Linked DNA regions of Homo sapiens. The protein of the gene in region 1 purifies or fractionates together with the protein of each later gene. This does not show direct contact. Each region holds a gene or a part of one and is shown in the gene's direction. Other genes may lie near its edges. The genes, in order: PELI3, IRAK1 and MAP3K7.

The links.
Region 2: the proteins of PELI3 (region 1) and IRAK1 purify together in Homo sapiens (affinity purification with western blotting; 7 studies listed by BioGRID and IntAct, with this or other methods). This does not show direct contact.
Region 3: the proteins of PELI3 (region 1) and MAP3K7 purify together in Homo sapiens (affinity purification with western blotting; 3 studies listed by BioGRID and IntAct, with this or other methods). This does not show direct contact.

What each region holds. Positions count from the first base shown.
Region 1 is NC_000011.10:66,469,581-66,476,904, forward strand, and holds part of PELI3 (E3 ubiquitin-protein ligase pellino homolog 3), read left to right. Parts: intron 1-1,661; coding exon 1,662-1,791; intron 1,792-2,788; coding exon 2,789-2,890; intron 2,891-3,660; coding exon 3,661-3,855; intron 3,856-3,909; exon of another isoform or gene 3,910-4,156; coding exon 4,157-4,345; intron 4,346-4,563; exon of another isoform or gene 4,564-4,645; intron 4,646-5,349; exon of another isoform or gene 5,350-5,524; intron 5,525-6,017; coding exon 6,018-6,587; 3' UTR 6,588-7,324. UniProt on the Homo sapiens protein: E3 ubiquitin ligase catalyzing the covalent attachment of ubiquitin moieties onto substrate proteins. Involved in the TLR and IL-1 signaling pathways via interaction with the complex containing IRAK kinases and TRAF6.
Region 2 is NC_000023.11:154,016,844-154,024,413, reverse strand, and holds the start of IRAK1 (interleukin-1 receptor-associated kinase 1), read left to right. Parts: upstream 1-4,511; 5' UTR 4,512-4,601; coding exon 4,602-4,737; coding exon of another isoform or gene 4,738-4,815; coding exon 4,816-4,983; intron 4,984-5,085; coding exon 5,086-5,217; intron 5,218-5,335; coding exon 5,336-5,439; intron 5,440-5,626; coding exon 5,627-5,815; intron 5,816-6,058; coding exon 6,059-6,123; intron 6,124-6,293; coding exon 6,294-6,408; intron 6,409-7,346; coding exon 7,347-7,465; intron 7,466-7,570.
Region 3 is NC_000006.12:90,576,776-90,584,099, reverse strand, and holds part of MAP3K7 (mitogen-activated protein kinase kinase kinase 7), read left to right. Parts: intron 1-7,324. UniProt on the Homo sapiens protein: Serine/threonine kinase which acts as an essential component of the MAP kinase signal transduction pathway. Plays an important role in the cascades of cellular responses evoked by changes in the environment.

The sequences.
Region 1 (7,324 bases):
AAGGCAGGACTGGCTTTCCAGCCCAAGGCAAGGCCACTAATGTGGGAGGCTGCAGACCCATGGGTATGGACCCTCCTGTCAGCCCCCTTGGGGAGCAGAGTCCACACTGGCTGCATATCAGAGCTGGCTGGAGGGCACTGAAAATACACATTGACAGGCCCTCTCCAAGCCTACAGAATCACAGTCGCAGTGGGTGGGACCAGGGAATCTGTTTTTTTTTTTTGTTTTTTTTTTTTTGAGACAGAGTCTTGCTCTGTCACCCAGGCTGGAGTACAGTGGCACGATATCAGTTCACTGCAACCTCCACCTCCTGGGTTCAAGTGATTTTCCTGCCTCAGCCTCCTGAGTAGCTGGGATTACAGGCACCCACCAGCATGCCTGGCTAGTTTTTGTATTTTCAGTAGAGACAGGGTTTTATTATGTTGGCCAGGCTGGTCTTGAACTCCTGACCTCAAGTGATCTGCCTGCCTCGGTCTCCCAAAGTGCTGGGATTACAGGTGTGAGCCACTGCGCCCGGCCTCATCTGGATTTTAACAAACTCACTAGAAGATTCTGATTCAAGTGGCCTTGTCTGTATTTGGCAGCTCTTTGTCCTGTCACTTCCTGTTCCCAGACCTTCCTGGCACCCCACTGGTTGTTGAATAATGTCCTCAGCCTGGAGTTCAGAGCCCTCCCACCAGTGTCATCTCCCCCACATACTTCACCACCAAAGCCACCATTCCCTGATCTCATCAGACCCTGCCAGCCTTGGGCCCTTTGCTTAGGGTGAGCCTCCATCTAGAGGGGCTTCTGGAGTCAGAGAGACTGGGCTCAAATCTGGACATTTTCACCTACTAGCCAGAGGCAAGTCACATTACCTCCCTGAGCCTTGATTTCTCTCATTTGTAAGATGGGCAGAAAGCCACTTGCCTGGCAGGCCACTGCACAGATTCCATTAGGTGATTGATAACATGAAGGCCAGGAACACAGAGGCAGCAGCCCATGGCAGCGATGAGAGCTATGCCTCACCTCCTCTGTGCCTCTCACAGCCATGCCCTCCAGACAAGAGCTGGAAAGGCAGGTGGAAATTTGACATGTATGGACATATGGAGGTACTGGCATTGTGTGTCATTTTTTCCTTCCATTTTGGTTTTGAGTAGTGGTGTGATAAGTGACAGCTTACTACAGGTGAACCCTTTCTAGTTCTTCAAAACCCAGTAGAGGTGTTCCCTCTCCCAGAAACCTGATCCTAGGGCGAGAATTCCCTTTTCTTCCTCTAGGCTTATGGCATCCTTGGCTTGTGCCTGGGTGTGGCAGGTGGCACCTAGGTTCCTGGAGAAGCTGAGGAACCCCTCCACTGAGGGCCCACAACTGACCCGTGGTGCATCACCTCTACCGCCCCAGTGCACAGCACCCATCCAGGCATGGCTCAAGTGTCCAGGAAATACTTGGTTAACTGAATGAAAGTGCTTTTGAAACTGCTCTGACACCCCCCTCCCACTCCCCAAGGTACCAATTTGTTATTGTAGGGTCTTCTAGTTTCAGGTGCTTGTAGAGCTTGTTTATTAAGGTAGGATCTGCCTAGAAGTTGGCAGTTTCCTCCAAGTCTCATCAGGGGTTCACTTTCTCTCTTTCTCTCTCTCCTCTTGCAACCCCTTCTTCTTAACCCCCGACATCTACAGCTACAATGGTTGTCTGGCAAGTGGGGACAAGGGCCGCCGGCGAAGCCGCCTGGCACTGAGCCGCCGGTCGCACGCCAACGGGGTGAAGCCAGACGTCATGCACCACATCTCCACGCCGCTCGTCTCCAAGGCAAGCAACTGACCCATAGACCTGAGGTCCTGCCCTCCCTGCCCAAGGCCCAGGTCTTCGGCCTTCCAGGTCCTACCTGCCCACAGCCCCCACACCTTAACAGGGGAGCCCACTTTGTGTCATCACTCACTGCTTATTGGGCCATCCGAGAATGGTGATGAAAAATCCTTTGCAGTGTGCGCAGTTCTTTACAGTTTGCAAAATGTTGCCTTAACCACTGGACCTCTCTGAACCTTGGCTGCCTCTAAGATGGTGCTGCTTATTTCCATCCAATGGAAATGGAAATGGGTGGAAATGAGCTGCACCATTTTAGAGGCAGCCAAGGTTCAGAGAGTGGGAGGTGACAGTCATACTGCAATGATAAAGGAAAAACCTTTGACTTTAGAGGATTTGGGTTAGAATTCAGCCTCTGATATTTCCAGCTGTGTGCCTTTAGGCCAGTTTCTCTCTGACCTGCAGTTTCTTCAACTCTAAAATGGAACAATAACCCCATTCTTTTTATTTTTGAAACGGAATCTCGTTCTGTCACCCAGGCTGGAGTACAGTGGTGCGATCTCAGCTCACTGCAAGCTCTGCCTCCCGGGTTCAAGCCATTCTCCTGCCTCAGCCTCCCGAGTAGCTGGGACTACAGGCGTGTACCACCACACCCAGCTAATTTTTTTTTTTTTTTTTTTGTATTTTTAGTAGAGACGGGATTTCACTATGTTGGCCAGGCCAGTCTTGAACTCCTGACCTCAAGTGATCCGCCCACCTCAGCCTCCCAAAATGCTGGGATTACAGGCGTGAGCCACCGCACCCAGCCTGATAACCCCATCCTTAGGGTGACTGTAGGGCTTAAATCATGTGAAACATCTGCTGCACTGTCCACCCTCTGAGAAGGATGGAGCTGCCCCCTTCCCAGGGAGTGGCTGCTGGGCCTTGAGCTCCAGGTGCTTGCTCAAGGCATACACTTATCATGGCTGCACACCCTGGCAAGTGACTTTTTTCTCCCCACCAGGCACTGAGTAACCGTGGTCAGCACAGCATCTCGTATACACTGTCCCGGAGCCACTCGGTCATAGTGGAGTATACACATGATAGCGACACAGACATGTTCCAGGTATGCTCAGGCCTCTCCACACACCTCCTGGCCACCAGGCCTCTAGGCTCTGCAAGCATTTCAGGTGAGGCTACGGGTTGGGAGGCCATGGGAAAGCTGCTTCTCTCCAGACGAGGAAGCAGGATGTCCCGGTGTGGGCTGTTGACTGCAGAGTCACACAGCAAGTCAGTGGCTATATCAAGGATCAAATTCAAGACTCCTAGACTGTGGGAGGTCACACAGCTCAGGAGTTCAGGTGTGAGAGGCCTAGTGCCTGGGTTCAGATTTTGGCTCCATCACTTACCACTGGGTGACTTTGGGGAAGCATCACTTAAGTTCTCTGGGCCTTGGTTTACTCATCTGTAAAATGAGGCCCATAATAGTACCCACCCCACGGGAAGATTAACTTAGGCATTGCATATAAAATGTTTAGCATGGTGGCTGGCATATAGCAAATAGTTACTTAGAAGTCACTATCTGCTGCTAACATTTGAGCACCCTCTTATAATTATATCAGCAAATCAACTTGTATTTATTGAATGGGGCGATCCCTAGTGCTGTGGGGGCAACAGAGAAGGAGAAGCTGCTCCAGGCCACGGCTTCTTGGACTTGGAGACCCCACCTGGGAGCCTAGAGGGCCTATGGAGTTGGTGCTGCCCCTTCTCCAGGGCCTGGCAGCCTCCTTTTTTGGTGACCTTGCATACAGAGCAGCTGCTGGTACTCTGGGAGGGAAGGCCCATGAGAGTCCCCTATGTACATACAGTCCCTGCTTGCTCTCCCTGTCCTCACAGATTGGCCGCTCCACAGAGAACATGATTGACTTCGTGGTAACAGACACGTCCCCTGGAGGAGGGGCTGCCGAGGGCCCTTCTGCCCAGAGCACCATCTCCCGCTATGCCTGCCGCATCCTCTGTGACCGCCGGCCACCCTATACTGCCCGCATCTATGCCGCTGGCTTCGATGCCTCTAGCAACATCTTCCTTGGAGTGAGTGAGCCCCAGGAAGGGACCAACTCTTCATCTGTGAGGCAAGGGGTAGGCTTGGGAGGTGCAGCATCTTGAGGTGATGAACCAGCCCACAGTAATCCAAATGGTGGTCCTGGCAGTTAGCAACCCCACCTAACTGATGAGCAAAGTGAGGCCCAGAGAGACGCTCAAGTCATGCAGCTTCAATGCCAGTCCTCTCTGGGCCGCCTCTGAACTTGAAGGTAGCGGGGGCAGTGCCTCTGGCACATGGCCTGCTGGGGGGCCCCTGGGGGATGTGATCTGATCCCTCATGTGGTCCCAGGAGCGAGCGGCCAAATGGCGGACCCCAGATGGCCTGATGGATGGACTGACCACCAATGGAGTCCTGGTGATGCACCCGGCAGGCGGCTTCTCCGAGGACTCAGCCCCGGGTGTCTGGCGGGAGATCTCGGTCTGTGGGAATGTGTACACATTGCGGGACAGCCGCTCAGCCCAGCAGCGGGGCAAGCTGGTAGGTGGCCCGCTCCATTCCCCACCCCTATCCTTGCCAGGCCCTCACAAGCTGCCCATCCCCCTGCCCAAGCCAGGAGATGATCTCCAGTCCTTCTGCCCCAGGGAGCCCCAACAGGCTCCATATCAGGGAATCCCAGGCCCAGGGGGTTCTTAGCATGAGCCACTTGTCCCACAGACAGGCAGACAGACCAGGGTCCCCAAGCATAGCATGCATACCACTGGAGGTCCAGGGGGTGATGCGATCAAGGCACACACAGACATACTGTGCAGTCCCAGGTGGCTTCAAGGCTGCTGGCAGCTTAAAAAAAATCACACCTTCTTATGAGAGTGACACTTGGCCCATGTGTGAGCAGTTTATAGCCTAAAGGGTTGGCAGTTTGTAGCATGTCTATCACGTTCAGACAGGTTTAGCACTGTTCTCCTCTCGCAGGAGGAAAGGGTCCTTACAGTAGTTCTGACACAGGTGTTAGTGGCAGCTCCTTGTGGTACAGATCAGAGAGCTGAGGTTAGGGACCGGGAGTGAGTCCTAGAGAGAGGCAGGGGCTGTCCAAGGTCACATGGCCGTGCTCCTCAAACTGGCCATGCACTGCTCTTCTCTGGCATGAGCACATTGGCCAAGGAGATGCAAAACCTCAGAGAAAAGCCTGGCTTTTCTTTCCAGAGCGTCAACTCTGTGGGGAGGTCTGGGGAAGCATTGTTTGTTAAAACAATGCATGTGAATGTTTCACAAGCCTACTCTTCTTGAGCACTATTTGCCACGCACTGTTCTAAGTTTTTAAACTGATTGATCCATTTATTTATTTATTTATTTATTTTTTTTGAGATGGAGTCTCACTCTATCCCCCAGGCTGGAGTGCAATGGCACAATCTTGGCTCACTGCAACCTCCGCCTCCTGGGTTCAAGTGATTCGCCTGCCTCAGCCTCCCACGTAGCTGGGACTACAAGCATGAGCCACCACACCTGGCTAACTTTTTGTATTTTTAGTAGAGATGGGGTTTCACCTTGTTGGCCAGGCTGGTCTGGAACTCCTGACCTCAGGTGATGCGCTCGTCTCGGCCTCCCAAAGTGCTGGGATTACAGGCGTGAGCCACCGCACCCGGCCTGATGGATTCATTTAATCTTCACAAGAACCACTTGAGATGCCAGAAGGTGCAGTCCATCTTGAGGATGAGGAAACTGAGATGGAGAGAGGTTAAGTTACTCGACAAGGGACACAGTTAGTCAACGGTGAGGCCAGAATTCAGCCTGGGCAGCCTAGCTCCTGAGTTTTTGCTTTTAACTGTAACTACTGGGACAGCTGCTTTGGGCTAAGTACCCAGCATTCCCCGTTAGCTTTGAGCTAAGTACCCAGCATTCCTCATTAGAGGCCTTTCCTGCCTCTGTCAGGAGGAGGGCACTTCAGAAAACATCTTATTTTAGAAAAACCCTGTCTGGGTCAGACTTCCTGATTAGACAGATGGGGAAACCAAGGCCCATGCCCCGTTGGGAGGGGGGATCAGCATGTGCCTGGGATGCACCTGCCTGCCCACTTGGCCTCCTAGCCTGCCTTGCTCCTCTGCCCTGCCTGCCCTGCCCGCCAGGGTGTCCTCTCCAGGGAGGCTCTGTGGGATGGACCCGCGGCTCAGCAGGGGCCTCTTGGGCAGTAAGGCCCTTCTACTGCCTCTGGCAGGTGGAAAACGAGTCCAACGTGCTGCAGGACGGCTCTCTCATCGACCTGTGTGGGGCCACACTGCTGTGGCGCACACCGGCGGGGCTGCTGCGGGCTCCCACACTGAAGCAACTGGAGGCCCAGCGGCAGGAGGCAAATGCAGCGCGGCCCCAGTGCCCCGTGGGCCTCAGCACTCTGGCCTTCCCCAGCCCAGCCCGTGGCCGCACAGCGCCCGACAAACAGCAGCCCTGGGTCTACGTCCGCTGCGGGCACGTCCATGGCTACCACGGCTGGGGCTGCCGGCGGGAGCGGGGCCCCCAGGAGCGCGAATGTCCTCTCTGCCGCCTTGTGGGGCCTTATGTGCCTCTATGGCTTGGCCAGGAGGCCGGCCTCTGCCTGGACCCTGGGCCGCCTAGCCATGCCTTTGCACCTTGCGGCCACGTCTGCTCTGAGAAGACTGCCCGCTACTGGGCCCAGACACCACTGCCCCACGGCACCCATGCTTTCCATGCCGCCTGCCCCTTTTGCGGGGCCTGGCTTACCGGCGAGCATGGCTGCGTCCGCCTCATTTTCCAGGGCCCGCTGGATTAGGCTCCCTGGGGCCCCCTGCTGCTGTGCCCACCTGCCCACCCAGGTCCCCACCTCCTGCAGCCCAGAGGGAGCTCTGCATGTGGGACACTCCCTGCTGGCACAGCCACACCAGATGGACATGTTGGATGGGCTGTGCCCTTCCCCCCAACTGTGGCCCCCCAAGGAGGTCCCCAAGATCTCCACCCCAGTCATGCTGATGGGGCCTTCAGCACCAGCTCTGTCCTGGGTCGATGGAGGAAAGCCCAGCCCCATGGCCTTGCCCTTCCTGGGGCATCCCACATCGTGCCGCCGACACTGTGTGCCCCTGGGGGAGTGAAGGGGCCAGGGGCCTTTGACCCCCAGCTTAGGCTGGCTATGCCCTGAGCCTGCCAACCCAGTTTCAGACACTCATCCTTCATCCTTCCTGCTGCCGCCCTGGGTTCCTCTATAAACCTCGCTGCTCAGCTGCCCCCACAAGTCCCACATGCCCCGCATGCGTGCAATGCCTCCAGCCCCCAAGTGAGTGGTGGGTGGGTGGCAGGCTGGGCCTAGCACTTGCTGATAGCCACTATGGGCTCGACTCTGTGCTAAGTGGTATCTGGGGACACAGAGGCAATCAGACCTGGTTCCCCCCCTGGTGGAGTTCACAGTCTAGTGGAGGACAGACTGTTAACAAATGGCAACACGGCTTCATGCGTGCCAGGATCAGAGTACAAATCAGGCTGTGGCAGGCCTCACTGGTAATGGAAAAGTGAGGG
Region 2 (7,570 bases), on another chromosome or scaffold:
AGTCAGCCTCGCAGGCCTCCCTGCCAGTAGGGTCCGAGTGTGTTTCATCCTTCCCACTCTGTCGAGCCTGGGGGCTGGAGCGGAGACGGGAGGCCTGGCCTGTCTCGGAACCTGTGAGCTGCACCAGGTAGAACGCCAGGGACCCCAGAATCATGTGCGTCAGTCCAAGGGGTCCCCTCCAGGAGTAGTGAAGACTCCAGAAATGTCCCTTTCTTCTCCCCCATCCTACGAGTAATTGCATTTGCTTTTGTAATTCTTAATGAGCAATATCTGCTAGAGAGTTTAGCTGTAACAGTTCTTTTTGATCATCTTTTTTTAATAATTAGAAACACCAAAAAAATCCAGAAACTTGTTCTTCCAAAGCAGAGAGCATTATAATCACCAGGGCCAAAAGCTTCCCTCCCTGCTGTCATTGCTTCTTCTGAGGCCTGAATCCAAAAGAAAAACAGCCATAGGCCCTTTCAGTGGCCGGGCTACCCGTGAGCCCTTCGGAGGACCAGGGCTGGGGCAGCCTCTGGGCCCACATCCGGGGCCAGCTCCGGCGTGTGTTCAGTGTTAGCAGTGGGTCATGATGCTCTTTCCCACCCAGCCTGGGATAGGGGCAGAGGAGGCGAGGAGGCCGTTGCCGCTGATGTTTGGCCGTGAACAGGTGGGTGTCTGCGTGCGTCCACGTGCGTGTTTTCTGACTGACATGAAATCGACGCCCGAGTTAGCCTCACCCGGTGACCTCTAGCCCTGCCCGGATGGAGCGGGGCCCACCCGGTTCAGTGTTTCTGGGGAGCTGGACAGTGGAGTGCAAAAGGCTTGCAGAACTTGAAGCCTGCTCCTTCCCTTGCTACCACGGCCTCCTTTCCGTTTGATTTGTCACTGCTTCAATCAATAACAGCCGCTCCAGAGTCAGTAGTCAATGAATATATGACCAAATATCACCAGGACTGTTACTCAATGTGTGCCGAGCCCTTGCCCATGCTGGGCTCCCGTGTATCTGGACACTGTAACGTGTGCTGTGTTTGCTCCCCTTCCCCTTCCTTCTTTGCCCTTTACTTGTCTTTCTGGGGTTTTTCTGTTTGGGTTTGGTTTGGTTTTTATTTCTCCTTTTGTGTTCCAAACATGAGGTTCTCTCTACTGGTCCTCTTAACTGTGGTGTTGAGGCTTATATTTGTGTAATTTTTGGTGGGTGAAAGGAATTTTGCTAAGTAAATCTCTTCTGTGTTTGAACTGAAGTCTGTATTGTAACTATGTTTAAAGTAATTGTTCCAGAGACAAATATTTCTAGACACTTTTTCTTTACAAACAAAAGCATTCGGAGGGAGGGGGATGGTGACTGAGATGAGAGGGGAGAGCTGAACAGATGACCCCTGCCCAGATCAGCCAGAAGCCACCCAAAGCAGTGGAGCCCAGGAGTCCCACTCCAAGCCAGCAAGCCGAATAGCTGATGTGTTGCCACTTTCCAAGTCACTGCAAAACCAGGTTTTGTTCCGCCCAGTGGATTCTTGTTTTGCTTCCCCTCCCCCCGAGATTATTACCACCATCCCGTGCTTTTAAGGAAAGGCAAGATTGATGTTTCCTTGAGGGGAGCCAGGAGGGGATGTGTGTGTGCAGAGCTGAAGAGCTGGGGAGAATGGGGCTGGGCCCACCCAAGCAGGAGGCTGGGACGCTCTGCTGTGGGCACAGGTCAGGCTAATGTTGGCAGATGCAGCTCTTCCTGGACAGGCCAGGTGGTGGGCATTCTCTCTCCAAGGTGTGCCCCGTGGGCATTACTGTTTAAGACACTTCCGTCACATCCCACCCCATCCTCCAGGGCTCAACACTGTGACATCTCTATTCCCCACCCTCCCCTTCCCAGGGCAATAAAATGACCATGGAGGGGGCTTGCACTCTCTTGGCTGTCACCCGATCGCCAGCAAAACTTAGATGTGAGAAAACCCCTTCCCATTCCATGGCGAAAACATCTCCTTAGAAAAGCCATTACCCTCATTAGGCATGGTTTTGGGCTCCCAAAACACCTGACAGCCCCTCCCTCCTCTGAGAGGCGGAGAGTGCTGACTGTAGTGACCATTGCATGCCGGGTGCAGCATCTGGAAGAGCTAGGCAGGGTGTCTGCCCCCTCCTGAGTTGAAGTCATGCTCCCCTGTGCCAGCCCAGAGGCCGAGAGCTATGGACAGCATTGCCAGTAACACAGGCCACCCTGTGCAGAAGGGAGCTGGCTCCAGCCTGGAAACCTGTCTGAGGTTGGGAGAGGTGCACTTGGGGCACAGGGAGAGGCCGGGACACACTTAGCTGGAGATGTCTCTAAAAGCCCTGTATCGTATTCACCTTCAGTTTTTGTGTTTTGGGACAATTACTTTAGAAAATAAGTAGGTCGTTTTAAAAACAAAAATTATTGATTGCTTTTTTGTAGTGTTCAGAAAAAAGGTTCTTTGTGTATAGCCAAATGACTGAAAGCACTGATATATTTAAAAACAAAAGGCAATTTATTAAGGAAATTTGTACCATTTCAGTAAACCTGTCTGAATGTACCTGTATACGTTTCAAAAACACCCCCCCCCCACTGAATCCCTGTAACCTATTTATTATATAAAGAGTTTGCCTTATAAATTTACATAAAAATGTCCGTTTGTGTCTTTTGTTGTAAAAATCAAGTGATTTTTTCATAAGGTTCTTTTACTATTGGAAAAGATGGGCAGCACGCAGTTTTATTTTATTTTTGTAAGTTTTTTAATACATGTGAAAGCAAAGAATACTCAGCATGCCTTTCTAAGTGACGCGTTTGCACCTTTTGTTGGGAAGTACTGTATCCTGTGCTGTTAGCATTCTCGATAAATCTCTCTGTGAAAGTGACTCAAGGTCTGGGCTTTCATTATAAGACAGAAGTCCCCCTCCAGCTCACATGACAGCATGGTGCTGCGTTTCCTCATTGGATCTGGCTGTCCCTGGACACAGGTAGCTGCCTTCAGGCCTGCCACGAGCGGCCAAGGGAAGCCTCCTCCATATGCTGGCCTCGCTGGCCCCTCAGCTTCTTCCAAGCCAGTGCTCTCCAGGCACACTGCTCCAGCGTGTGACGGGAAGGGCCTGGCATGAGTCAGCCTGCAGCACAACCTCCCTGCTCCAGACCCGTATGGTAGGGGCACCCCCTAGGTCTGGATGTGCTGTGGTGCTTTTGGACACCCCCACCCCCGCAGGCTGTGGCTCCTCCTGTGTCTCATTCTGGCCAGGACCCTCACGTGCCCTCTGTTGACTGCTAACGTGGTTCTCTGACCAGGCAAGGGCAGGCTGAGGGGTTTGCCCAAAGGGGGCCCCCTTGTTACTGGCTTCCTTGGCTCTCAGGAGCAGCCTCACCAGGTTGGTAAGGGGCTGGAGGAGACAACTGCTCAAAGGAGTCCAGCTTCACATGCACATGCTAGAAGGTACCCTCGGAAGGCCTGGCCTTCAAAGGTAGATCCCAGGGTTGAAAAGTCAACTTGTATGCATTGAGCATCTCGTATGCCAGCCCTGTTCCGTGAGCTGATGGGCCTTTGTGTGTAAGTAGGACCAAGTGCCCCCGTGGAGGTTAGCATGGGTGTGCAGTCATTTCAGATACTTGAGTTGGTACATCTCAGTAAAGTCTGTCCCGTGAGAAGCCATGGGTTTCATGGTATGGTTGGCATCTTCCTTGGGAGTGGCCACAGTGGTGGTGGCTTCAGGAAAGAGACTCCAACAGGGGCCAGCTGTGGGCCTTGGGCACTTCTCGTTTCTAGGAAAAGTCCTAAGTCTGTAGGGCTAGGGGTGGGGAACCCCTTCGCTGTCAGGATCAAGAGGGCAAGGGGAACTGTCGCTGGAGGAGACATCCAGCTGGAGAAACAAAAGAGTAAGTCTGCGTTGCTGCTTGTGGGGTCTTCCCCATCTCAGGGCGGGGACCGGGGGTGGCGGTCCAGACAAGTAATCAAGGACGATGCCCAGGAGGGGACAGGTACGGGGTGGCAGGAGCTCTGCCGGCGGGCTCAGGAAGCCTTCACCACAGCTGCCTGAGCTCACCCTTGCCAAATGAGGGCTGGGGCAGCAGCAACGCATACACTCACGGCTGTGGCGGGCAGCGTTCTCGGCATATTTCAGGACACCTAAGGAGACTGAATGGCTCAAGGCTGCTGCCGTGTGCAGGGGGCTAGACGTGGGGCGGGCAGGCAGGGCTCCTGGTAACAGCCCTGCAGGCCGCAGTGGAGAGCAGGGTTCCGGCAGGGCCGCCCAGGAGCTTTCGGAAGGCCCGGCCCCGGCCCCTTTCCGAGCAGCCCGGGCCTCCGCCCTGCCCTCTGTCCCCAACGCCGGGAGCCGCCGTTCGTCCTCCAGAGCCCCGCCCGGGCGAGCCCGGGAGGCCGATCGCCGCTCGCGGAACCCGCCGGGACCCGGGCCCTCCCCGGCGCGGGGCGCCCCCGTGTGACCCAGCGCGCGGCCGCGGCGCGCAAGATGGCGGCGGGCCCGGGCACCGCCCCTTCCGCCCCGCCGGGCGTCGCACGAGGCCGGCTCGAAGGGGAAGTGAGTCAGTGTCCGCGGACCCGGCCGGCCCAGGCCCGCGCCCGCCGCGGCCCTGAGAGGCCCCGGCAGGTCCCGGCCCGGCGGCGGCAGCCATGGCCGGGGGGCCGGGCCCGGGGGAGCCCGCAGCCCCCGGCGCCCAGCACTTCTTGTACGAGGTGCCGCCCTGGGTCATGTGCCGCTTCTACAAAGTGATGGACGCCCTGGAGCCCGCCGACTGGTGCCAGTTCGGTGGGTGGCGGCGGGCTGCCGGGGGGCGGGAGGCGCGCGGGCTCCTGGCGCCGACGCCTGACGCCCCCCGCCCCGCAGCCGCCCTGATCGTGCGCGACCAGACCGAGCTGCGGCTGTGCGAGCGCTCCGGGCAGCGCACGGCCAGCGTCCTGTGGCCCTGGATCAACCGCAACGCCCGTGTGGCCGACCTCGTGCACATCCTCACGCACCTGCAGCTGCTCCGTGCGCGGGACATCATCACAGCCTGTGAGCGCGGGACTCCGGGCACCCCACGGCTGGGAGGCCGGCGGGCCCCACGGGGCTCCCCCACCCGGGCCTCAACCTTCCTTTCCTTCCTTGGCGTCCCAGGGCACCCTCCCGCCCCGCTTCCGTCCCCAGGCACCACTGCCCCGAGGCCCAGCAGCATCCCTGCACCCGCCGAGGCCGAGGCCTGGAGCCCCCGGAAGTTGCCATCCTCAGCCTCCACCTTCCTCTCCCCAGGTAAGAGGGCCCGGTTGTTAGGCTCGGTGGACCCAAAGAAGAGCCCACCTTGACCACGGCCACGGCTGTAGACCCTGCTGCTGGTCTCTGCCTGCCTCTCACTGGTGTCTTTATGAAGCTTTTCCAGGCTCCCAGACCCATTCAGGGCCTGAGCTCGGCCTGGTCCCAAGCCCTGCTTCCCTGTGGCCTCCACCGCCATCTCCAGCCCCTTCTTCTACCAAGGTAGGTGTCCCCTGCCCCCCAGGGAAGATTCGAGACAAGGAGGAAGGAATTCAGCCTTTGATGTAGCGCAGAGCCCCAGTCAGCCAAGCTGGGTCAGCTGGGAGGCAGCTGTGGTGGGGAGAGCCTGGAGCCTTGGGCAGAAGGGAAGAGACAGGGACCCCACCTGATCCAGGCTCTCTTCCCACAGCCAGGCCCAGAGAGCTCAGTGTCCCTCCTGCAGGGAGCCCGCCCCTTTCCGTTTTGCTGGCCCCTCTGTGAGATTTCCCGGGGCACCCACAACTTCTCGGAGGAGCTCAAGATCGGGGAGGGTGGCTTTGGGTGCGTGTACCGGGCGGTGATGAGGAACACGGTGTATGCTGTGAAGAGGCTGAAGGAGGTGAGTGTCGCACCCTGGCAGGGACCCTGGAAGGCCATCAGATAACCCTCACCACTTCTCCAGCCTTTCCCCCTCGCTTCCCCACACAACTCCTTCAGCCCTCATTCTGGCGTAGGGTCCCTGGCCCCTTGGTGGTTCTGGGCCTCGGGTAGGTGGCACTGGTGGCCCGAAGGCCTTCGCTTCGAGAGCCTCACGCTGCCCGTCTTCCCTGCCCCTTCCCCCACCGCACCCTGGGGGCTGCAGAACGCTGACCTGGAGTGGACTGCAGTGAAGCAGAGCTTCCTGACCGAGGTGGAGCAGCTGTCCAGGTGAGGCCAGAGGGGGAGCCACACCAGGTCCCGTGGGGCTTCAGACCGCACACCACAGGACCTGGCTCCCTTGGGCACCTGAGGCCTGGCAGGCCCGGGCGAGCTGAGGCCCCAGCCAGGGCTGCCCACCCAGTCTGGCCTGATGGAAAGTGCTCCCCTTTTTCAAACAGGTTTCGTCACCCAAACATTGTGGACTTTGCTGGCTACTGTGCTCAGAACGGCTTCTACTGCCTGGTGTACGGCTTCCTGCCCAACGGCTCCCTGGAGGACCGTCTCCACTGCCAGGTAGGCTCACCTGGCCCGGCACGCTTCCCAGGACCCAAAGCACTCCTGACACCTGGCTGGAGCCGGGCGCGGGGCCTAGGGCTTTCAGCCTGTGTGAGTGGGTCCTGCCAGCAGGCCAGGCCTGCACTTCCAGCTCCCCAGCAGCACCCGGCTCAGGATTTGGCCCACGGTGGGGTCAATTTTTTTTTTTTTTTTTTTTTTTTTTTTTTTGAGGTGGAGTCTTGCTCTGTCATCCAGGCTGGAGTGCAGTGGTGTGATCTCAGCTCACCACAACCTCCACCTCCCGGGTTCAGGCGATCCTCCTGCCGCAGCCTCCCGAGTAGCTGGGACTACAGGCATGCACCACCACACCTGCCTAATTTTTGTATTTTTAGTAGAGATGAGGTTTTGCCACATTGGCCAGGCTAGTCTCGAACTCCTGACCCCAGGTGGTCTGCGCGCCTCAGCCTCCCAAAGTGCTGGGATTACAGGCGTGAGCCACCACGCCTGGCCCGACCCAATGTTTTCTATAGAGCTCTTTCCCAGGCCTCTCCCCTTTGCAAGCAGCGTAGCTGGAGGGTCTCATCAGCAAGCCCCGGAGGCGAGGGGGTCTGGGGCTACCAGCTGGACCACCTACAGCTGAGGGAGGGCCCCCTTGCCTCCTCCTGCATGCTGCGTTTGGGGAGAGCGGGAAGAATGCCTTCAAGGACTTCCCGACCACCAGGGACAAAGGGATGAGCCCTGGGAGCCGAAGCCCAGCAGATTCTATTGAACGTGTCCCCAGCCATTGCTTAAGAAGTGCAGGTCACGGAGACTTTGCTCCTCGTTTTCCAGAAGGGGGAAACTGAGGCCTAGAGAGTGAAGTGGCTGTTCCAGGCTGCACGGTGACAGGTAGAAGGATGGTTGGGATCAAGGAACGGCCATCCAGCAACCTCCCCTGTCCCCCTTTGCCACCCCAGACCCAGGCCTGCCCACCTCTCTCCTGGCCTCAGCGACTGGACATCCTTCTGGGTACAGCCCGGGCAATTCAGTTTCTACATCAGGACAGCCCCAGCCTCATCCATGGAGACATCAAGAGGTGAGGAGGGGCCCTTGAGAACTGCCGGGGCAGGGCCTGCAGCAAGGGGGGCCCCGCGTCCTATCAATGTGGGGATCAGGCATGGCCTGGGACCTCAACACCCCG
Region 3 (7,324 bases), on another chromosome or scaffold:
ATGTAATTGAATTGTATTATATCAATATAATTAGAAACTGTAAAAAAAATAATAATTCAACTACAGGCCAAATATGCAGCCATTTAGTAGATACATATTTCTAAGACATTAGCTGATCTTGCATTTCTAATATTGTAACTCAGTAGTATTAGTTTGGCACATCTTAGATTCAATTCAATTCAGTCAAATTAGGTAAGGTCTCAGCCTCAGAAATCTGCCTAGGTACTTTTTAAACATCATTTAGTGTTTACCATCTAGAACTGGCTGTAGAGAATGTTGGAATAAAAGAGGGGATGGGTTGCAAGAAGTGTTACACAGGGTAGTATAGTGGAAAGTGTTCTGGACTGAAAAAGAAAATTTAGATGCTGTACTGATTCTGCCATAATATATTTTTGTAACTTTGAGGAAGTCACCACATTTTTCTGGGCCTGTGGTTACTCATGTAAACTGACTGAACAAGATCATTTAAGGTCTTTTCCAGTTCTAAAATGAAAACACATTCATGTTTTCCAGTATTTAACTGTTTTCTATAGTAAGCTTAGCAGTTCTTTAAAGACTGATCATGGTCTCCTATAGAATTCAGTTGGTGACCAACTAATCCTGGGTTGACAGGGCAAATGATATCCCATTGTACAGATATTGACAAGCAGTCATAGAGTTTGACTTGCCAGAAGCCGCATGCCTAAGTAAATGGTAAAGCTGGGAATTGAATATGAGACTTCTCACTTGTGAGTCAGTTGCCCTTTCCACTGGATTTACAGTGTCACTCAGTACTTTCTGAAGTACTCTATAACCAAACCTAATATGGGAAAGGGGAAACAAAATACTGATTTCCTTTTTAGTGTAGTTGGTCCTGAGCATTTAATGAACATTCTCATCTGTGCGTAATACTCTGAGGTACTATAAAAGATAAATAGGGCTTGGTGCGGTGGCTCACACCTGTAATCCGAGCACTTTGGAGGGCCAGTGCGGGCAGATCACTTGAAGCCAGGAGTTCAAGACCACCCTGGCCAACACGGAGAAACCCCGTCACTACTGAAAGTACAAAAATTAGCTGGGTGTGGTGGCACAGGCCTGTAATCCCAGCTACTTGAGTGGCTGAGGCATGAGAATCGTTTGAACCCAGGAGGCAGAGGTTGCAGTGAGCTGAGATCATGCCACCGCACCCTAGCCTGGACAACAGAGGGAGACTCTGTCTCAAAAAAAAAAAAAAAAAAAAGATGATAGAAGAATCCTAGGATTACCTCCTTAAAATGTCTGACTTAGTATGATATCAGACTGGAGTAAACACAGAACAGTTAACTATAGACCACAAATTTAAAACTGAATATAGTGTAAATTAAACACTTAAGCCATAATTTGAAAATAGAGTTAATCACAGAAGGTTCCATTGAGTAGGGACAAGTTTAAAACTAGGTTTTGAATAAAGTGACCATCGTGGGTTGGGAAAGTCACTAAGATGAATTTTCTTTGTAGTTGTTCCTCTGCCTAAAGCGCTGTTCCCCCATAACTTAAGATGACTGACTCCTCACCAGTCAAGTCCCACCTCAAATGTTATTAACACTTCCTTAGAGAAGCATTCCCTGAACAACCTAGATCTTTTGTCATTTCTATTATCTTTCATGGTACTTACCAGTAACTGAAATTGTGTCTCTCCTTCAGCAAAATGTAAGGCGCTTTATTCACTTTTGTAACCCCAATGCCTAGAACCTAGAAGGTTCTCTATACATATTTGTTCAATGAGTACATGAAAGTATCACAGCATAATCATAAGAATTAAATGCCCATCTTGTTCTCTTATATTACATGTGATAAAATAGGAGCTGAGTTATGCGATTTGGCTAAGGCAACACGTTAGAAATGAGATCCGAGTCTTGTTTTAATGTCGACTCTATTATAGTTAGCAGATACTTTTGTTTAGCAGGGATAAAAAATGCTGTAAAGGGCCAGATGCTATGAGTAAGCCACGTATGGTAGGTCTTTACTACAGAGTGCTAAAAAGACACTATTTACAATGGTTGCTTTTGAAAAGGGAGACCCATAATGCTGACCTCAACTATAGTGTAGGAACAAAGCTATAGTATTGGACACATAAAATTACTGCAGCATTTGTATATATTCTTCAGCTTTGTTAAGGAGACACACAAAAGTTTTGTTTTAAAAGCTAAAATATGCTACAAAGAGGAGATATAGATAGAACTTAAACAGTTATATGTACTTTGTAGGTTTAAGTTATAAATATATGGGGAATTGGTATTAGAGAAAAACCTAATTTATAGTGGTCTAAACAAACTGAGTACATAGATTTGTTAGTCACTATTTAATTATGGATACCTAAAATAATCAATACATTCTTTCATGTGAAAGTGACCACTGATTTCAGTAGAAATCTGGAATTACTATAGTTAAGAGGTAGCTACAGAGATAATTTTTGCATTGTACACGTGTAGCTTAAAAGATAGCATGAGCATATTATTTGAAATAAAAGCCTAGAAAATGGGTGAGATGTACTGTGGCAGGTATTAAAAGACTGCATGAAACATTCAGAAGAAAGTTTGAATAATCAAAGCTTTACTTTTATGTTATCAAATCCATCTTGTCAGCAGATGGCAGTTCCACTCTGCCACAGTTTATTAATAGATATTGAAGTTCTAACATAGTTGGAGGCTCCAAGTCCTAACTAATAAATGTATGATCTATGCTTGTTCTGTCTTGTTCCGCATTTCCAGCCAGAACAATGCCAGCATCACCAGGGGTCCATTCAGATAGTTCATAGAACAGGGCCAAATGAAACTGACAGCTGTAGTCACTGAACTAAAAATAACATGAATTCAGAACAATTAAAAGAATTATTTAATAATAAATTAAGAGCACAAAGGCATACATCCTTTTCCATTTAGGTTAGGTGTGTGTTTGGTTGTTTTCTTTAACATGACTTGTCTGAAGGAATGGAGTCATCTTACATCATAAAGAAATTAATTTTTAAAGGAATTTCTTTAAAAATAACACACAAACACACAAAACCTGATTTTTGTTTTTGTGCCTTTCAATAGTAGTTGCATGGAAATGTTCTATATACCATCTCATATTCTTCTGTATTTTTTATTAAGAAATTAAATTTAAATCTACTTAATTGTATGAGACTAAAGTTGTAGACCCAAAACAAAGAGGTTTCAACCATAGGGGGAGAAATGCTTATCATAAAGTAATTAATCAAAAACATTTTGATTTAGAAAACATTCATAAATTTAGAAGGAAATATTTCCAAATTGACCTCCCTTTTAAAACCAAAGTCCTTTTTGCATTCCTCTGTTTTTTACAAATGAAGGATTATGAAGAATATCTGAAATATTTATTTGTATGTCACCATTTTAGTTGGATGTGTGTGATGGGGAAATACTTGTAACTTGATATGTTCTCTTTTTTACTCTTGATGAAAATTCATCTTTGGGGAAAAAACAGTCATTTAAAATAATGTTGGGCTAGGTACGGTGGCTCACACCTGTAATCCCAACACTTTGGGAGGCCAAGGTGGGAGATTGTATGAGGCCAGGAGTTTGAGACGAGTCTGGGCAACATAGTGAGACCCTGTCTCTATAAAAAATTTTAAAAAACAAAAAACCTAATTGTTAATTACAGTGTGTCAAATAAACTGTATTATTCAGAAAAGAATACGGTTCAGAAAGCACGTTTGATTTGTGAACTTGGACTAGAAATTTGGTAGTAAATAAAAAGTGGCCTTCTTTCAGTGGTTTACAACTTGAATATTAAGTTTTTTCATTGTTTACCTCAGTTGCCAGTATGTCTCAAGAGTGGCCATCTATGCCACTTTTTTTCTGTTGATCTACCATATGTCAAGAAAAATATCAAATTTGCTTTCTGTAGTTTGTAACATTGGCTCATTCCTTATCTAATAATGTACATAATCTCCTTATGTGTTTTTAGGCTTGGCCTTTGCAGTCCAGACATACTATTATTCTACATCTGATCTTCTCCACGATTTTATGTTCTTGATTAATACAATAAGGAAATTTGTTACCAAGATATTTGCATTTGAAACATTTTCTTAGAAATATGTGATATATTTTTTAAAAATCTATACACATGTAAGATTTTCCCCAGTCAGTGGAGTGCTGTTTTACATAGCCTGAGAGGTGGAGTGCAGACAGTAATGAACTTTCTTAACCAGCGTTTCCTGTTGGAGCGGTGGTGTCCACAATTTTTTGTTTGTCTGTCTCCCACTGGTAAAACAAAACACTTTCTATTTTGTATACTCAGTTTTCAGTGTGTATGTATGAAGTCGGTATTTTTAAACAATGGGAGATGAAAGGTTTCATACTATCATTTGATCATGGCTCAAGTTGCAATAAGTACTTTCTAAATAAAACCTTTCTAAAATGTGAGAATTGACTTAATTAAAATGAGATAATATCTGTAAATCTACTTAACTAAGGTCAAGTAAACTACAATATACACAAGTGAGGGACTGATAATGGAGTCAGTATTTGACATATTGAACTTAATAAGCCTGTAGGACCCCTTAGTCTCAAAGGCAGTTTTAAATATATCTTGAGCTTGGGCAAAAAACCTGGATGGGAGAGATTTGAGAGTATGAATCCATGAGATTAGAGAACAGATTCAGAAACAAAAGGGCCAAGGACAGAACCCTGGAAAGTAGCAACATCTAAGGTTTGGACAGAGGAAGGAAGAATCAGTGAAGGAGGCTAAAATAGAACTCTTAAGCAGAGACAGGCAGAGAAGGGATTGTTGACAGCCATCTTTGGAGACTGCCATAAGCCCTTTATACACAAGCCTTCTATTAACCCAACTTCACTCTTTTCTTAAAGGAGATTAGGGCTTTTTAAAACCCCCTTCTAAACAGCTAAAATCTGATTCGAATATAATCTTTTGAAAAGTTAATTGTTGTTAGTTATCATACTTGCTGCCTTTGAGTAGCATTTTTCTCTGTACCAGGCACTGGACCAAATCCTGGCAGGCCTCTGTTTTGTTGGCACCATGAAACATACCTGAAAGCTGACTCTGATTTACTAATTACATGATCCTTGAATAGGTAACTTCAGTTCTTGGAGCCTTGGTTTTCTTCTCTCTAAGGTAGGAATAAAAAATCCTATATATTCATGGGTTTATGGTGACACTCAAACTCCATCATATTTGTAAGAAAGAGCTTTACAAGTTGTAATATATTGTTAAATATAAGGTTGCATTATCGTTATACAGATAATAAAATTGCATTTCTTTAAAATGTTATTTCTTGAAGAAAGGAATGAGAAGTATATTGGAATGCCCTGGGAAGCTTTTTTTATGCTACGTAGCACCTTCTGCCACCTCTAATTCCCATTCAGACTTCTCCCTTAGAGAGCTAATATCAGAATGGGGGGAAGGAGAGCAAAATATACCAGGAAACAACTTTATCCATTGTATATATCATCTGATTATTCTATCTTCTACTCTTATGGATATATGCTTATACTCTTTTTTGTTTAAAGCACAAAACTCCTGTCTCTGGCCAGGTGCAGTGGTTCACGCCTGTAATCCCAGCACTTTGGAAGGCCAACCCAGGCAGATCGCCTGAGCTCAGGAGTTCAAGACCAGCCTGGACAAGATGGCAAAACCCCGACTCTACTAAAAATACAAAAATTAGCTGGGTGTGGTGGCACAAGCCTGTAATCCCAGCTACTTTGGGGTGGCTGAGGCAGGAGAATCACTTCAGCCAGAGAGGCAGAGGCTGCAGTGAGCTGAGATCGCGCCACTGCACTCCAGCATGGGCAACAGAGTGAGACCCTGTCTCAAAAAAACAAACAAAACAAAACAAAACAAACTCCTGTCCTCCTGCCGGTATTTCTTACTTGTTTTTAAAAGTTAAGAAATGTAACTATTTTTCTATAAACTACTGTTTAATTATGAGTCATTCCTCTTTTCAACTCAGTAGAGAAAAGCATTTAATCTTGCCACAACAAGGATAATTTCCATGTAATACTTACCTCTTTTATGTATCTTTGTACTCAGAAATTTCAAGATTAATTCGGTTATTTCAAAATTCAGTCTTCCCCCATAAGGATTTTCCTTTTCCCTTTCTCCTGCCCAAGATGACATATGGGTGCTGTGGAAAGCTTCCACAAATAATATAAACAGCAAGGGAGAGCTCTCTGGTCTGTGTGATGGCTTCCACTGAAATATCTTGCCTTATTATCTGTTGTTAATGGATTAGCCTTGAATGCAGTGATTTTCAAACATTGAAACTACCTGGAGGGCTTGGTAAAACATGGATTGCTTGGCCTTACCGTCAGACTCTATAATTCTGGGTTGCACCCTGAGAATTTATATTTCTAATAAATATCCAGGTGATGTTGATACTGCTGAACCGGAGACCACACTTTTAGAGCCACTGGCATATGCTTTCACTGTCCTTATATCTGCTTTCCTTCTGGAACGTCTTTTTCTTTTGGCTTCTCTGACTCTCTCCTAGTTTGCCTGCTACCATATTGACTGTTCCTTCCTGTTCCTTGCCCATTCCTTCTCCTCTCTTGTGATCTAAATGTTGAACTGCTTCAAAGCTCAGTTCCTCTACTCCACTATCTCCATATTATTTTTGGTTACCTCTTCCAACTGATTGACTAGAAAAACTGACTACATGCTAATGACTCCCAAGTTTGTATCTCTTTGTCTGACTTCTCCATAGATCCTCTCACTCACGTTTCTACCTTCTTACTTGATATCTCCTCTTGGATATCCAGTAGGCATCTTAAACTTCATATGACTAAAACCAAACTCTGAGTTATTAAAAAAAAATCTGCATCATTCTTATCCCTCAGTAAACTGTTGTCCAGTCTAGGTGTTTTCCTTGATTCAGCTCTTTTCCTCTACACCTGTCCTGCCTGGATGCAGAGCATCAGCAAACCCTATTGACTCTACTTCTAAAACATTTCCCAGATCTGCCCAGTTTCTGCACTACCATTGACCTTGCCCTCGTAGCTATTGTTGCTTGTTTGGACTGCTGTAATGGCTTCCTAATGGGTCTCTATTTACATATCCTAGCTTCCCTACAATCCTTTCTTTAAGAGCTATAATGATTTTGTTTAATGTCACATACCATCCTTACTTCCTTGAATTTTTTCAGTTCCTTCACATTGCACTTAGACTGAAATTCAAACTCCTTTTTATGGTAGGTAGAGCCGTTCAGGATCCAACCTCTGCCTGTCCCTCCAGCCTTACCTTACAATCACTCTTCCCTTCCTCCACTATACACCAGCCACACCAAACACTCCCAAGTATTTCTCTAAATCATCACTAAAATGTCACCTTT